Regions from separate parts of the Homo sapiens genome. Here region 2 is linked to region 1. A link means that fine-mapping ties the variant in region 1 to the expression of a gene that starts in the linked region. Tissue or cell type: whole blood. Region 1 holds a variant in brackets; the other region holds the start of a gene. All regions are shown on one strand. Distances are from middle to middle.

Region 1 (8,242 bases):
GAGGCTGAGGCAAGAGAATCGCTTGAACCCAGGAGGCGGAGGTTGCAGTGAGCCGAGATCGTGCCACTGCACTCCAGCCTGGGTGACAGAGCAAGACTCCGTCTCAAAAAAAAAAAAAAAAAAAGAAATATACATGCTCTGCAAATATGTGAAAAAGGTCAATCTCCATGAATAAAAATATGATAAAACCATGTGAGACCATTCTTTTGCCTACAAATTATCAACACTGGATAATATCCCAGTATTTGGGGTCAGCGAGAAAGATTGGCAGATTGTTTGGGTGGACGTGTGTGGCAGTTGCTGTAGTCCTTTGGTATTGTGGTGGCCTCGTTTTTCAGGATGCTCCATAATGGGCCAATTGGCCCCAGCATCTTTGGTAGGATTTTGGCCTCTCTTGCCTGAACTCCAGTGGCCCCATTTTCGGAGACATGCGTTTCTCAGCTGTAGGTCACCTTTGTCTGGGTGCCACACAGCGAGGAAGTGGCATAAGACAAAACACACACCTCGGCCTGCCCTTTGTGTGGTGTTACCTGTGACGTTACTCAGGAGAGTGTAGCTGGGGAGACCCTGCCTGTGCCAAAGCCAAAGGTGTGAAGAGGGGGTTGATGGGAAGCCGTGTGGCCTCTGCCTGGGGACTCAGTCCTGAGAGGGACCCTGCACCCACCCTGAGGACCCACCCTTGTGGTAGCACACTGACTTCCTGCCTCCTCGGCTGCCTGTGAGCCCCAACTGCCGCCTGTGGGCTTTTGGCTCCGTGTTTAATGGGGGGGACTGGCCAGGCGAGTTTGCTGAGGGCTGAGTGCCATTAGCACGGATGCGTTCCGGATCTGACATTTTCAGAGGTCATCCTTCTGGCCAGAAGAACCTTCTCTGTGCATGAGAAGTGGAAAGGAGACAAAGTAGCCAGAAGTTGATACCCCTGGGGTAATGTCCCCAGCATGAGGCCACCTTGGAGAGTTGCTGATCCAGCCAAGGCATCTGGCAGGAGGCATGTCCGTTCCACCTGCTGCAGCAGCTCTGGCCTTGGTGGTGGGGGTGGACTCTGGCACAGACAGGTCACTGCTGGGCTCTGACCTCATCCACTCGTTCCTTCTGGAGATGGAGCTTATCCCTCAGGGTCGCAGGCTGTGCCTCCAGGAGCTCCCAGGGCTGTGGGGGAACAGATGAAAATAACGTGCATGGGGCCTGAAGGTGGAGAGCAGAGCCATGTGGGGCCCACACTACCTACAGCCCTTCCCCATGTCCTGGGAAGATGATAGGTTGACCCACCCCTGCCTCCCAGCAAGGAACCTGAGGCCTAGAGACCTCTGATTTGCCTAAGCTCAAATGACCACAGGTGGCAGAGCCAGGCCCCACACCCAACTCTTGAAAACATTCTAGGTTGGAACAGGCTCTGCTCAGTTTCTCAGGACCCGGGAGCAGGCACAGAAAATGCAAGCGGCCTCCTTCCTCCAGCTCATCTTCCAGTCCTCTCAGACCCCCAGGGAAGCTCTGCATTCGCCCAGCGCAACCCCAGGAGGGCAGGAGCAGGCAAACTTTCCCTGAACTGATGCCAAGGCTTTGAAGCCAAAGACCGGTCCATGATACAGCAAAGCTGCTCTGGGCTGGGCCCTGCTGGTGGCCCTCCATGGCACAAATCGCCACCACCTGGGATAGGAGAGGGCACAAGTCCACCAAGGAGTGCCAGCCTGGGACCCATCACGGGCCCATCCTCCCCTAGGTACACGAAGGCCTGACTCTCCCACACTCACTTGCCATCCTTCTGGAGGGCACAGGCAGGATTGGAATCTGGCTCTGTAGCTGCACATATGCCCTGCTGAGGCCCTCACACTACAGAACGCTGGCAGGCAGGCCCTTGCTCACCTCCAGGGACAGAGAACCCACTACTCTCAGAGGAAAAGAACAAGCACGGAGAGCCCCTCACCCCACCGGCTCCATGCCAAGGGCTGTTTTGGGAACTCAGGTAATTCACTTCTTCCATCCCTCCCGCAGCCCTGGGAGGCAGGCACATGATGTTGGCCTTTTTTATGCAGAAACCAGAATTCAGAGAGGTTATGTAACTTGCCCAAATCCACGCAGCTGGGAGGTGGTAGTAAGTAGGGTAACACACATCTCGATTTGCCCTGGAGTCCCAGTTTACATCCATTGTCCTGGTGTGATAATTAACACAGTTTATTTTCATTCTCAAAAGTGCTCCAGTTCAGACAACAAGTTCAGTGGCATCAAGAATCTGAGCTCTTTCCCTGAACTATCCAACCTCTTCTCCCAACCCCGCTTTCCACCCAGAGCCTCAGGGGCCACCTGCTGTCACCTGTTCGAAACTCCCAGCCTCTGCTGCAGGCTCCAGGGACAGAGGCTGCAGAATTATCAGCCAGCATCGCTGAGCTGTGGCTTTTCTCCAGAAGAGGAAGCGGAGGCTGTGGTCCAAGCCTTCTCGCTCTTCTTGAGAAACTGCTGCTTCTCCCACTCCTGCAGCCGTCTGGAACTGCTCTGAGGCCCCGAGGCCCACCCTGTCCTTTGGAGGCTCCCAGAGTCCCAGCCCGGCTCTTTCTCTGGCTGGGAGCTGCTGCCTGGGTGGGGAGCAGCAGGCAGCAGCTGTCAACCTCCCCCAGCCTGGGACCCGCCGCTGGCAGAGGCCTCTGGGCAGAGACAATGGGCGATGGGTCTTCTGTGGCAGCTGGGGAGGAATCCCCAGGGGCTCCAGCAGCCACTTCTCCCTCCGTGCAGCTGGCACAGCCCCGTGTGTCCTCAAAGCCAGGGCTCAGAGAAGCCAGCTGGTGGGGCGCACCCAGGGG[C/A]CCCGAGCCTGGCCCAGACCCTGCTAGGTGCTCCAGTTCATGAGTGCAGCAACCACTAGGAGGCAGGGGCTCAACTCTGCAGCTGTGCAGGGCAGACCCAGGACTTCGGGGACAAGCCCCTCGGCATGCAGTAGGCTCCTGCTTTCCAAAACGCACTCACTCTGCTTCTCGGAAAGGCTTCTCGGCTGGCCCACGCTCCCTGTTGGCAGGAGACGAAGGAGGAAGGGAGAAAACCCTCCCTGGTTGGGGTGGGCTGTGTACCCTGCCCCACAGGGTCACCACTGGGAAGAAGGACAGGACAAGAAGGTAGACAGAAGCCCGAAGTAGAGTCCAGAAAGCCCCAGCCATGGTGAGGCGTCCCCGCACAGGCCTGAGGCTGTCCCTGCAGCTAGCCAAGGTCAAGGTCGAGGTTTTGGCATCGCCACACCTCAACTGTGTGGTTCCACGGCCCCACAGAGGGTTCGGTGACGCCTGGGAAGGTGCCGGGTTCCACGGCCCCACAGAGGGTTCGGTGACGCCTGGGAAGGTGCCGGGATCCACGGCCCCACAGAGGGTTCGGTGACGCCTGGGAAGGTGCCGGGTTCCACGGCCCCACAGAGGGTTCGGTGACGCCTGGGAAGGTGCCGGGATCCACGGCCCCACAGAGGGTTCGGTGACGCCTGGGAAGGTGCCAGGATGGCACTCTGATGGTCTCTAGGCTCAGATCTATTCAGGATGTGGGAGTTCACCCCAGAGAGCCTGTCTGTCCCCATGGGTCCCACACACAGGGCCTGTCACACACACAGGCCACAGGCATCTGCCTGTCCTGGCCCCATCTACTCAGTCCCTGCCAGGAGCCACAAGGCCCCATGAAGGTCAGGCCCTGGCACTATGCCTGGGCCAGGAGTGGAGCAGAGAGCTCAGGTCCCTGCTTCCTGTAGGGAAGACTTTCCTTGGTAGGATAGAACCTGGAGCAGGGACTCTTGGGGTGGGAGGTGGCAATGGTGCCCCGGGAACTGCTGATGCGGAGTAAGGGTCTGAAGAGCCACCACTACCAGATCTGAAACCCCCGCCTAGAAGGAAGGACATCAGAGACACTGAGAGACTCCTGGACTTCTGCCCAGAGCCCTGCTCGGGCTCAGAGAGGGGTGGCCCCCTGCGCTGTGGCCCCCACCACTGTGGGAGCGTTGAGACGCTGTGACAGGGAGGCAGTTAACACTGCTAACCTCAAAGATGAACTCAGCAGTCAGCACCAGGGAGATCGGAGGTCAGCCCACGCCAGCCCCACCACAGACACCCGCCTGCATGGCTGGATGTGCATATAAGGACAGAGACCCGTGCGGCCACCGTCGCCACCAGGTCCCTTGCACCCAGTGAGAGCCAGTCTGGAATGGGCGGGACCTGGCCCCTTCCTCAGCCATGGAGTGCCCTTGGCAAGTTCTGTGGCCTCTCAGAGTCCCAGTGTCTCATCTGCACCATCAACATGCCACTTGGTCCTGGCCTCCGGGGCTGCTGCAGCATCCTTTTGGTCAGATATTCCACAAACATTTCTTAACCAGAGCAGAGCTCCAGGCATGGTTCAGCCTTCAACCAGGGCACAGGCAGGGAGGGAAACGCCCCGGGGGAAGGAGAGAGCAGTGTTGGAGTAAGTGGGGTGAGGGTGAAGACCCCAGGGCACCTGGGCCAGCAGGAGTTGGGGAGGGTGCCCAGGAGGCTGAAACGGCCAAGTGACCTCCAGGCTGACCATCCCAGTGTCCAGCCACCCCCGCTGAAGCCACCCTGTGCTCTCCTTTGTGGTCCCTCCTCACCTAGGAAGAGCAGAAAGGACACAGCACCCACCCGCGGGACCCCTTTCCTGAGCAGAAAGTGCCCTGTGCCAGCCTGGCCACCGCCTCACTGTGAGGATATGCACACTCTAGGCTGGGCCACCTGGCTGTATGAGCCCCAGCCCAGCGAGCGGCACAATGGGGATGACCCCAGCACACCTGCCAGGACCCCTGCCCCACAGGGCCTGCCACTCCCTCCACAGGCCTCAGCTTAGGGTCTGTACCTTTGCCCCAGATCTGGGTTCCAGCCCCAGGGACTTGGCACACAGCCGGTGCCTAATAACAGCTTGTTGGATGGATAGATGAGCGGATGGGCGGGTGAGTGGGTGAAGGGGCGCTGCGAAGACATCTGTCTCATTGCCTTCTCATGGGAGGATAAGATAGGAGGAGGAGACGGGGCCTCAGGCTGGCAGGGCCTTAAAATCCTGCAGCCCCACGGCCAGCACCAGGCAGTGGGGACGGAGCCCCAGGTCACTGAAGGCTCCCTTGTTACTTCTGCTGGCTTCATCTGGACAAACAGAAGCCGCTTTCCAGCTGGCTTCAGCAGTTTTCACTTAGATTTTCTTCTTTTTTTTTTTTTTTTTTGAGACAGAGTCTCACTCTGTCACCCAGGCCAGAATGCAGTGGCGTGGTGGCATGATCTTGGCTCACTGCAACCTCCGCCTCCTGGGTTCAAGTGATTCTCCTGCCAGGTAGCTGGGATTACAGGCGTGCACCACCACATCTGGCTAATTTTTGTATTTTTAGTAGAGACAGGGTTTCACCATGGGGGCCAGGCTGGTCTCACACTCCCCACCTCAGGTGATCTGCCCGCCTCAGCCTCCCAAAGTGCTGGGATTACAGACGGGAGTCACCATGCCCAGCCTAGGTTTTCTTTTCCTTTCTGTTTTTTATTTTCGTTGCTGTTGTTGTTGTTTGAGATAGTCTTGCTCTGTGGCCCAAGCTGGAGTGCAATGGTGGGATTCTGGCTCACTGCAACCCCCGCCTCCTGGGTTCAAGCAATTCTCCTGCCTCAGCCTCTCGAGTAGCTGGGACTACAGGCGCGGGCCACCACACCCGGCTAATTTTTTGTATTTTTAGTAGAGATGGGTTTTCACCATGTTGGCCAGGCTGGTCTTGAACTCCTGACCTCTCAGGTGATCCACCCGCCTCGGCCTCCCCAAGTGCTGGGATTACAGGTGTGAGCCACCGTGCCTGGCCTAGGTTTTCTTTTGCTTGTGTACCAATGTTTTTGGCTGGTTGGCGTCTTGTTTGTGCTGAAATAGCAAGCCAGTTTTCCTCACTTTGGAGCTGCATTGTCTATCATGTGAAGATGTTCATAACCACCAGTGTCTGCTTCTAGCTCTTTCCTATCCTTTGTTTCTGGAGTTTACTTGTGTGTGAGGAAGGCTTTTGTGGGGACCAAGGTACATGGAGCAGTTGGGAGGTGAAAGTTTGTCACTGGGTCCTACCTGTGCAGAACGTCAGTCCCAGCCGAGAAAGCAAGGGCCAGGGCAGTAGTTCTCAAACTTGTGTTAGCCTCAGTCACCTGGAGAGCTGGTTGTGCCATGGCTTCCGATGCAGCAAGTCTGGAGTGCGCCCCAGAGGTGTGCATTTCCACCGGGTCTCCTGGTGGTCCCGATGCTGCCAGCCCCAGGTGAATACAAACCACAGCTGCCGAGAATTTTAGCACTGAGGTCTTGGGCAAGGCATTCTCCTCTCCTTCATCCTTGGTTTCCCATCTGCAAAAGTGAGGGAGTAGGGTGCAGTGGCTCACACCTGTAATCTCAGCACTTTGGGAGGCCAAGGTGGGAGGATCACCTGAGCCTAGGAGTCTGACACCAGCCTGGGCAACATAGCAAGACCCCGGTCTCTACAAAAAAATTTAAAAATTAGCCCAGCTGGTAATGTGCTTCTATAGTCCCAGCTACTCAGGAGGCTGAGGCAGGAGGATCTCTTGAGCCTGGGGAAGTTGAGGCTGCTGTGAGCCGTAAGCCATGACCATACCACTGCACGCCAGCTTGGGCAACAGAGTGAGACCCTGTCTCAAAAAAAAAAAGTGAGGGCATTAGACTCCGTGATGGCTGTCACCTCCATCCTCAAGTTGGACAAGACTGTCGGGGTGGGCTGGGGATCTGTGGGAGGGAGGGTGTTTGAGAATGTGGAAGTGGAACAGCCTTGCACGGGAGCTGTTTTCAGGAAAGGGACTCATGACAAAGCCAGGGTTCTAAGCCCCTTCCAACACCAAAGGGCCTCTTAGAGAGAGACTCAGAACTTAAAGGGAGACTCGGCAACCAGGAAGCAAGTAGCAAAGCATCACTCCAAGCAGGCATTTTGCAGTGTATGAGAGGCAAAGGAAACCTCCTTTAAAACTCTGGAAACAAGCATAAACTGATATTTCCCAGGCCCTGCCAGCCTGGGAGTCAAATGAGGTCATGTTACCACCCAAATCTGCCTGAGAACAGAGTCCTGTCTCCCTGCCGGGCCAGGCAAATGCCACTTCAAGATACAGTCCGTTGAGAACCCCTAGACTGGGACCTTAAGCTGCAACGTGTGATGAAGGCTTTCTAGAAAAATGCAATTGCAGGGTTGGTCTAGAGCCCGCTTTTCTTGCCTGGGCCCCAGCAGGATCCAGTGGCCTGAGCGGGGAACAGATTCAAGTCCCAGAACAGGATGGGGGACAGCCTCACCTACCAATTTCCTTTCCATTCTTTTTTTTTTTTTTTTTTTTTGGAGACAGGCTTTCGCTCTGTCACCCAGGCTGGAGTGCAATGGCGCGACCTTGGCTCACTGCAACCCCTGCCTCCTGGGTTCAAGCGATTCATGTACCTCAGCCTTCCAAGTAGCTGGGACTACAGGTGCCAGCCACCACGCCCAGCTAATTTTTGTATTTTTAGTAGCGACAGAGTTTCACCATGTTGGCCAGGCTGGTCTTGAACTCCTCACCTCAGGTGATCTGCCCGCCTCAGCATCCCAAAGTGCTGGGATTACAAGCATGAGCCACCATGCCAGGCCTGCAATTTCTTAGACTATTGAATGGCCCTGGAGTCAGATTGCTTGGGGTCAAAGGCCACTTTTACCACCTGCTGTGTGACCTTCAGCCCTTGAGCAAGTTATTTAACTTCTCTGTGCCTCAGGGAGCTCATAACAGCACTATACTGTGGGGTGGTGCCAGATCTGTCTCATAGACCCTGGCCAACGGATGAAATGAGTTCTCAGACACAGGCATACAGCATAAGAGCAGCTGGGTGACTGCCTGGCTCAAGTGGCCAGAGAGCAGCCCCAAGAAGCTGGAGCTGCTTGCTTTTATTCAGTGCAGGCACAATGTGGAAAACCTGGAGCCGACACGACCTGCAGGTAACTGACAATTACTGTGGCCAGGCACGGTGGCTCACGCCTCTAATCCCAGCACTTTGGAAGGTCAAGGCAGGTGGATCATGAGGTCAGGAGTTCAAGACCAGCCTGGCCAAGATGGTGAAACCCCGTCTCTACCAAAAATACAAAAATTAGCTGGGAGTGGTGGCACGCACCTGTAATCCCAGCTACTCGGGAGGCTGAGGCAGGAGAATTGCTTGAATCCTGCCGGGGTAGAGGTTGCAGTGAGCAGAGACAGTGATACTGCACTTAAGCCTGGGTGACAGAGTGAGACTCTATCTCAAAAAA
Region 2 (6,310 bases), 48 kb after region 1:
ACCACCTGCTCACTGGTTTGTAAGTCATTCAGGGGCTGGGCGCTTATAGAGTCACTCAAGGCGGTGACTCACACCTGTAATCCCAGCACTCTGGGAGGCCGAGGCAGGTGGTTCACTTGAAGTCAGGAGTTTGAGACCAGCCTGGCCAACGTAGCAAATGAAAACCCGTCTCTACTAAAAATACAAAAAATTAGCTGGGCGTGGTAGCACATGCCTCTAATCCCAGCTACTCGGGGAGGCTGAGGCAGAGGCTGCAGTGAGCTGAGACCGCACCACTGCACTCCAGCCTGGGTGACAAGAGTGACACTGTCTCAAAAAAAAAAAAAGTCACTGGACTCCCCCAAGCCAGTCCCCTACATTTCACATCAGGAGGGTCACCTATGGTGCCTCCTGCGTCGGGCTGTGGTGGGTTCCCACACGAACCCCCATATCTCTACTCCCCATGGTAGTCAGAGGAGCCTTTAAAAAGGGTAAATTTGCCGGGCACGGTGGCTCACGCCTGTAATCCCAGCACCTCTGGAGGGGGAGGCAGGAGGATTGCTTGAGGCCAGTCTGGGCAACAGAGTGAGAGCCCATCTTTTAAATTAAATTTAAAAATATAAAAATAAAATGGCTGGGCGCGGTGGCTCACGCCTGTAATCCCAGCACTTTGGGAGGCTGAGGCAGGTGGACTGACTGAGGTCAGGAGTTCGAGACCAGTCTGGCCAACATGGTGAAACCCTGTCTCTACTAAAAATACAAAAAAATTAGCCGGGTGTGGTGGTGTGTGCCTGTAATCCCAGCTACTCGGGAGGCTGAGGCAGGGGAATTGCTTGAGCCAGGGAGGTGGAGGTTGCAGTGAGCCGAGATTGCGCCACTGCACTCCAGCCTGGACGACAGAGCAAGACTCCATCTCTAAATAAATAAATAAATAATTTTTATTAAAGGGTAAATCAGTCAAATTTCCAAAAGAATTTTGAGAATCCAGAGCCCATTGCTCTGATAATTAAATTCAACATCTGGACCCAGCTTGGCAAGTGCTCTGTGATCCAGCCCGTTACCTACCTCTCATCTCATCTCTCGGCCATGCTCCAAGAAGTGTCTGCTCCCCAAGTGCATAAGCTCATGCCCCCAGGCCCATGTCCTTGCCTCTCCCTCTGCCTGGGACACTCTTCCTCCAGATCTTTACACTTTTGCCTCTTTTTTCAGCCTCAGCTCAAACATCACCTCCTCCCAGAGGTCTTCCCTGACCACCCCAGGGATAGCAGCCCTCCCGCTTCCCCAGGCACTCCCACATTACCTTCTTTATCATTTTCTTCCAGAGCTCTTAGGATGATCTGAACTTCTCTCATAAACTGGCTTATTCACCTGTGAACTGCCTGCTTCCCTCGCTATAACTGAAGCACTGGAAGAGGTCCTGCACCCAGCAGGCACTCAATGAGTATCTGAGGAATGAGTGAATGAAATGCCCAGTGCACAATCAACCTCCACAAAAGCAGTTTTTCTTTTCACATATAACTCATCGCTATCACAGCCCCTCTCCTTGCTCACCCGCCTCGCTGAGGGGCTCCTGAGAACCTCCGTAGAGGTCTCCATCAGCCAAAAAGCATCTGCACCGTCAGAGAGGGCCCCTCACTGCCGCTCGCAGTGCTCCCTGCTGCCACGTGCAGCCCCTTGAGCATGAGCCTGTTGACACAGGTTGGCACACGGTGTCTGGCTTCTGTAAATGCTCTCTGCTCCCAGGTGTGCCGTGCCCCATTGAAGGACAGCACTCACACTCCTCCAGGTATTAACTGACTTTTTCCCCAGCAATGTTTGTTTTAGGGATTAAAGTTTGTGGAGGAGCCTATAATTTCCAGACTCATCTGTTCCTTTCCTGGCAGCCAGCACATTTGTCATTCTATTTTTCCCAAGTCCCTGATAATACCGTTCCAGACATGTTGATTTGATGGCATCAGTCAACGGAAAGACTCTCTGGGGCCTGCCGTAGGCCAGAGGACAGGCTCTCCGGGCCACACTCAGGGGCGACTGAGCCAACTCTTCACGCCATTCCTTTCCTTCCCTGCCTAGGACGACCTTACAGCCCATGATCGCTTTTCTTCTTCTTCTTCTGTTTGTTTTTTCTTCCTGTTTTCTTTTTAAGTACTACAGTGACCCCTTATTTATTCAGCAAAGAAATGGACTACTCCACAGTAGTGAATTTTCAAAATAATGCCCTTCAAGCACTAAAACTTTAAACAACACATCTTCAAAACAGCTTTGCTGAGGTATAACTGACACACTATAAACGGCATGGATTTAAAGTGTACAACTTGATATGTTTTGATATATGGACACACCCATGAAACCATCACCACAATCAAGATAATGAACATGTCCATCATTCCCAAAAGTTTCCTCCCGCCCCTCCCTGCCCCCTTCCCCAAGCAAGCACTGATCTGTTTTCCAAATACGTCTTTAATGCTACAAGGGCTCACACACCTCCCCACCTTAGAAAATGGAGTATGATCAACATGATTGATCCTTTCCTTGATTCAGCATTATCACCAACACGATGGAAAGTGATCTCAGATGTCATGAGGATGCATGATTGTTTGCCCTGATCACTAAACGGCCCATTGTTGTGCTGGCATACTGGGCAGTTTCAAGTTTGGGAGTTTTCTCCCTCACTGCTAGCTGTCTCAGAGCTTAGTTCCCAGCAGACAACTCTTGCTGCCTCGAACCCTGGCACACTAACCACCATCCTGTGACGTTCCCACTCCTCATTCTGCGACAGTGGTTCTTTGCTGGGAGAGATTTTTGTCTCCCAAGGGACATTTGGCAATACCTGGAGATCTTTTTGGTTGTCATCATGGGAGCGGGAATGCTACTAGCAGCTAATGTTTAGTGACTAGGGATGCGACTGAACATCCTGCAATGTAGAGTGCAGTGTCCCCTACAGAGAATTATCCGACCCAAGATGTTGATAATGCCAAGGTTGAGAAACCCTGTTCAGGATGACAAACTGATTGAAAACTCAACAAGGGGACCGGGCGTGGTGGCTCACGCCTAATAATCCCAGCACTTAGGGAGGCCGAGGTGGGTGTATCACTTAAGGTCAGGAGTGCGAGACCAGCCTGGCCAACATGGCAAAACCCCATCTCTACTAAAAATACAAAAAAAAAAAAAAAAAATACGAGTGGCGTAAGCCTGTAATCCCAGCTACTTGGGAGGCTGAAGCATGAGAATCGCCTGAACCCAGAAGGCAGAGGTTGCAGTGAGCTGTGATCAGGCCATTGCATTCCAGCCTGGGCAACAGAGCGAGACTCTTGTCTAGAAAAAAAAAAAACAAACCCATAAAACAAACAAACAAAAAAAACTATGAGGATTGAGTGATTCACATTTCTGAATCGAGAGAGAGAAGGATGGGCAGCAGGCTTGTTGAAGCTGGAAGGCCAGGGAGGTCGCAGACTGAGGAAGACCCTGGTGTGTCCCAGGTACCTCCATGCAACCCTACTAGAGAGGTGGTCTCTGGCTTCCTATGGACAAGCTCTAAGGGACCCAGCTATGGGGCACCAGAGCCCAGCGTTCAGCAGCTGCTCAATGAATGTCTGCCAGGCGAGACTGCACCCAAAGCATTTATTAGGTACATAATTGTGGCAGCACTGGCTGGCCATGGAAGGCAAGGCAGAACACAAGGAGCTGGAGCTGGCGGAAGGAAGTCATTAAGTCAGCCAGTGGCTGGGATGCAGCAAAGCCAGGCAGAAGGTAAGTGCAGACCCACCCCAATAAATGAGGAAAATGAGAAGGGCTGGCTGGCCATGTTAGGATCCAGTTCCAGTGCGACCAGATATGTCACCACCACATCACTTTTAGCTCCTCCCCCCACCCACAGACACCCTGTTTGCCTGTCATATAAAGAAGGTTTTCCCAAAGTGGTTTAGCCAGAACTGGAAGGGCCCCGCCCTGTGAAGGGATAGGAGCCTGACTGTTGCAGCTGCAGTGAGTGGCGGGGAAGCAGCAGCGGCCAGGATGAATCCCAGGTGCTCTGGAGCTGGATGGTGAAGTATGGACATGCTTTATTCGATTTTGCATTGACTTAAAGGTTTAATTATTTTAGGAGTTCTTGTAGACATTCCTGAAAAATGCAGGTAGGCAAAAAGAAGAAAACAAAGATCGCAAATGTGACCCTTTCATTCGGAGAGAACACCAATGGAATTTTGTTGTGCACCCTTCTATGCACGTCTGAATGTTGTGTAGACATTCTGCTTACAACTAGGTGTGGGTGCTGCTGCCGAAGGCTTTATTTGCTGTGCCTGAGGTGGACCAGAGATTTCAGAGAAGACTCCCAGAGCACCCCAAGGAGACAACAGGAGTGCTTGGAGTCAGGATGACTGGGTGGATTTAGGACTATGTGATTCTCAGGAGCCTCTCTGGATTAGCCCCAAATCAAGGATAAAGAGAGGCCTAGCTGGACTCTTCCTCCCAGAGCCCTGCTGGGAAAATGGAGCCCCTTTACAGCCCCCACTTACCCATCAGGCCCTGCTCCTCTCACTCATCTCCAGACTTCTGTCACATGCCCAAGTCCTGCTAACTGCTGTGTAAAACTGGTAAGGTGGGATCCAGAGGACCTTGGGCCCCTAGGGCCCCAGGTCAGGAGACCTGGGCTCCAGGGCCAGTTGAGAGTGATAAAGAGAACAATACCTGCCCACAGGACTTGTTGCAATGAGATAAAGGCAGAAGTCACCAGTTGTGGTCAAATGGGATTTTTTTCCAGAGAAGTCTCACAGAGAGTGGCTTTCAAATTCTTTTTAGCAGCAGAATTGTTGTAAAATACAATCTCATGTGAAACCCTAAAATGTGAGACACTCTGGGTGAAGCAGAGAGAGGTGCTCAACTGCCCAATCCTGTCCTCATTCCTCCCTCTCAGGGAGGCACCTCTGAGAACCCACTTTAAAGAATTTTGCCTTATGCAGATTGAAGAGGCAAGCTGGCTGGAAGAAACTGGGAAGCTCCACTTCCCACCGCCTCTGCCTGGGTGGCAGTCATCTGAGCCTAGGCTAGCCCCTCCCCCTCCAAAGACCCACTGCGGGCTCCCCTGGGGCCAGTCTCCAGGATGGGTGGGGCACCTGAAGCAGCAAGTATTGCTATTTTTCTGGGCTGACCTTTCTTCTAGGCCTGAGGACAAGTGGGTAGGTGGGGCCAGCCCTGTCCCTGTTTCCCCTCAATGGAGTTCTCTTGCTCACAGCCTAAGGAAGAAGCGTGAGTCACTTCCTGCCTCAGTCTGACTGCTGGAGTATTGTTCTCCCAACTGTGGCTGGCGCTACCCAGTGTGGCCCCTACAAGTCTTAGTTCCTTGGCGGAGGGGAAGTCCCCACTTTGGGACAAGGCCAACTGGACTTATCTTCCCGCTCAACTTTGAGGACCCAGCATTGTTCCTCCAGTTTCCAGTTCTTGCAGTGTTTGTAAAGGTGCCCGAATCGTACCTGATCCCATTCACTAAATATTATCTCCATTTTATAGAGGGGTAAATTGAGGAAGTCCCTGAGAAATTAACTTGTCTAAGGTGTCCCAGCAAAAAATAGTGCCCCAGGGATTTGAACCGGTTTGCTGATTGATTTTTCACCAGTTGCCTTAAGAATTATCATGATTTAACCTCTCTGGGCCTCAGTTTCCTCCTCTATAAAATGCAGACAGTGATACATCAAAGGTACTTAAAGGAAAATGTACTGTACCCACCTCATGGGGCATGTGGTGAGGATAAAACGGGTTGACACAGGAAAAGAGCTCTCAATGGTGCCTGGCTCATAGAAAACACTCAGTGGATTTTTTTTTTCCCATTACCCGGGAACCTGTGTTAAGGAGGCCACAGGCTGATCCTGTGCAGCCAGGTTATCTCACAGGGAGCGAGAAGAGATGGGCACAGGCTACTCTGCGACCTTGGAATAACCCAGCCTGGGAAGCTCCTGGCCACATTTTCCTTCTTTTCTTTCTCAGCTCAAGCAGCGTCGGCCTCAGCCAAGTAGCACAAACGTTTTCTAGGGCCCAGGGAGGGAGAGGCTCCGGCTGGTATATTGCAAGTAGCTTGGATTCAGGCTCTGCCAAACACCCCAGTCTCTTGCAGGATCTGAGGTCTGCTGGTTGTGGGACTTTGCGCAAATTATTTAAACGTTGTGCGCCTCAGTTTCCTTATCTGTAAAATGGGATTAATAATCTCAGCCTGAAAGGATTATGTGGATTAAATCATGTACATAAGAAGGAGATAATGTAAAGTGACTGGCCTGGTGCCTGGCAAGCGGTTGGTGTCTAAAAAGAAAAAAAAGCTAAAAATATTAAAAGGAGGTGGGCTACT

The links. PIP is the estimated chance that this variant, and not a neighbour inherited with it, causes the effect.
Region 2: it holds the start of FURIN, and the variant in region 1 is fine-mapped to the expression of FURIN in whole blood (TOPMed, PIP above 0.99).

The regions. Positions count from the first base shown.
Region 1 is chr15:90,815,976-90,824,217 of GRCh38, forward strand. BLM (BLM RecQ like helicase) reads left to right here. Exons shown (of 22, transcript NM_000057.4): 22 at 1-191. Among named protein-coding and RNA genes, the nearest start is that of FURIN, 48 kb to the right of the region's middle. RefSeq lists enhancers at 426-1,257, 1,258-2,087. The variant C/A (reference allele first, on the strand shown) is at 2,796.
Region 2 is chr15:90,864,688-90,870,997 of GRCh38, forward strand. It overlaps FURIN (furin, paired basic amino acid cleaving enzyme), which reads left to right and starts at 3,901. Exons shown (of 16, transcript NM_002569.4): 1 at 3,901-4,024. RefSeq lists enhancers at 4,433-5,632, 4,875-4,924, 4,992-5,286, 5,025-5,134, 5,072-5,366.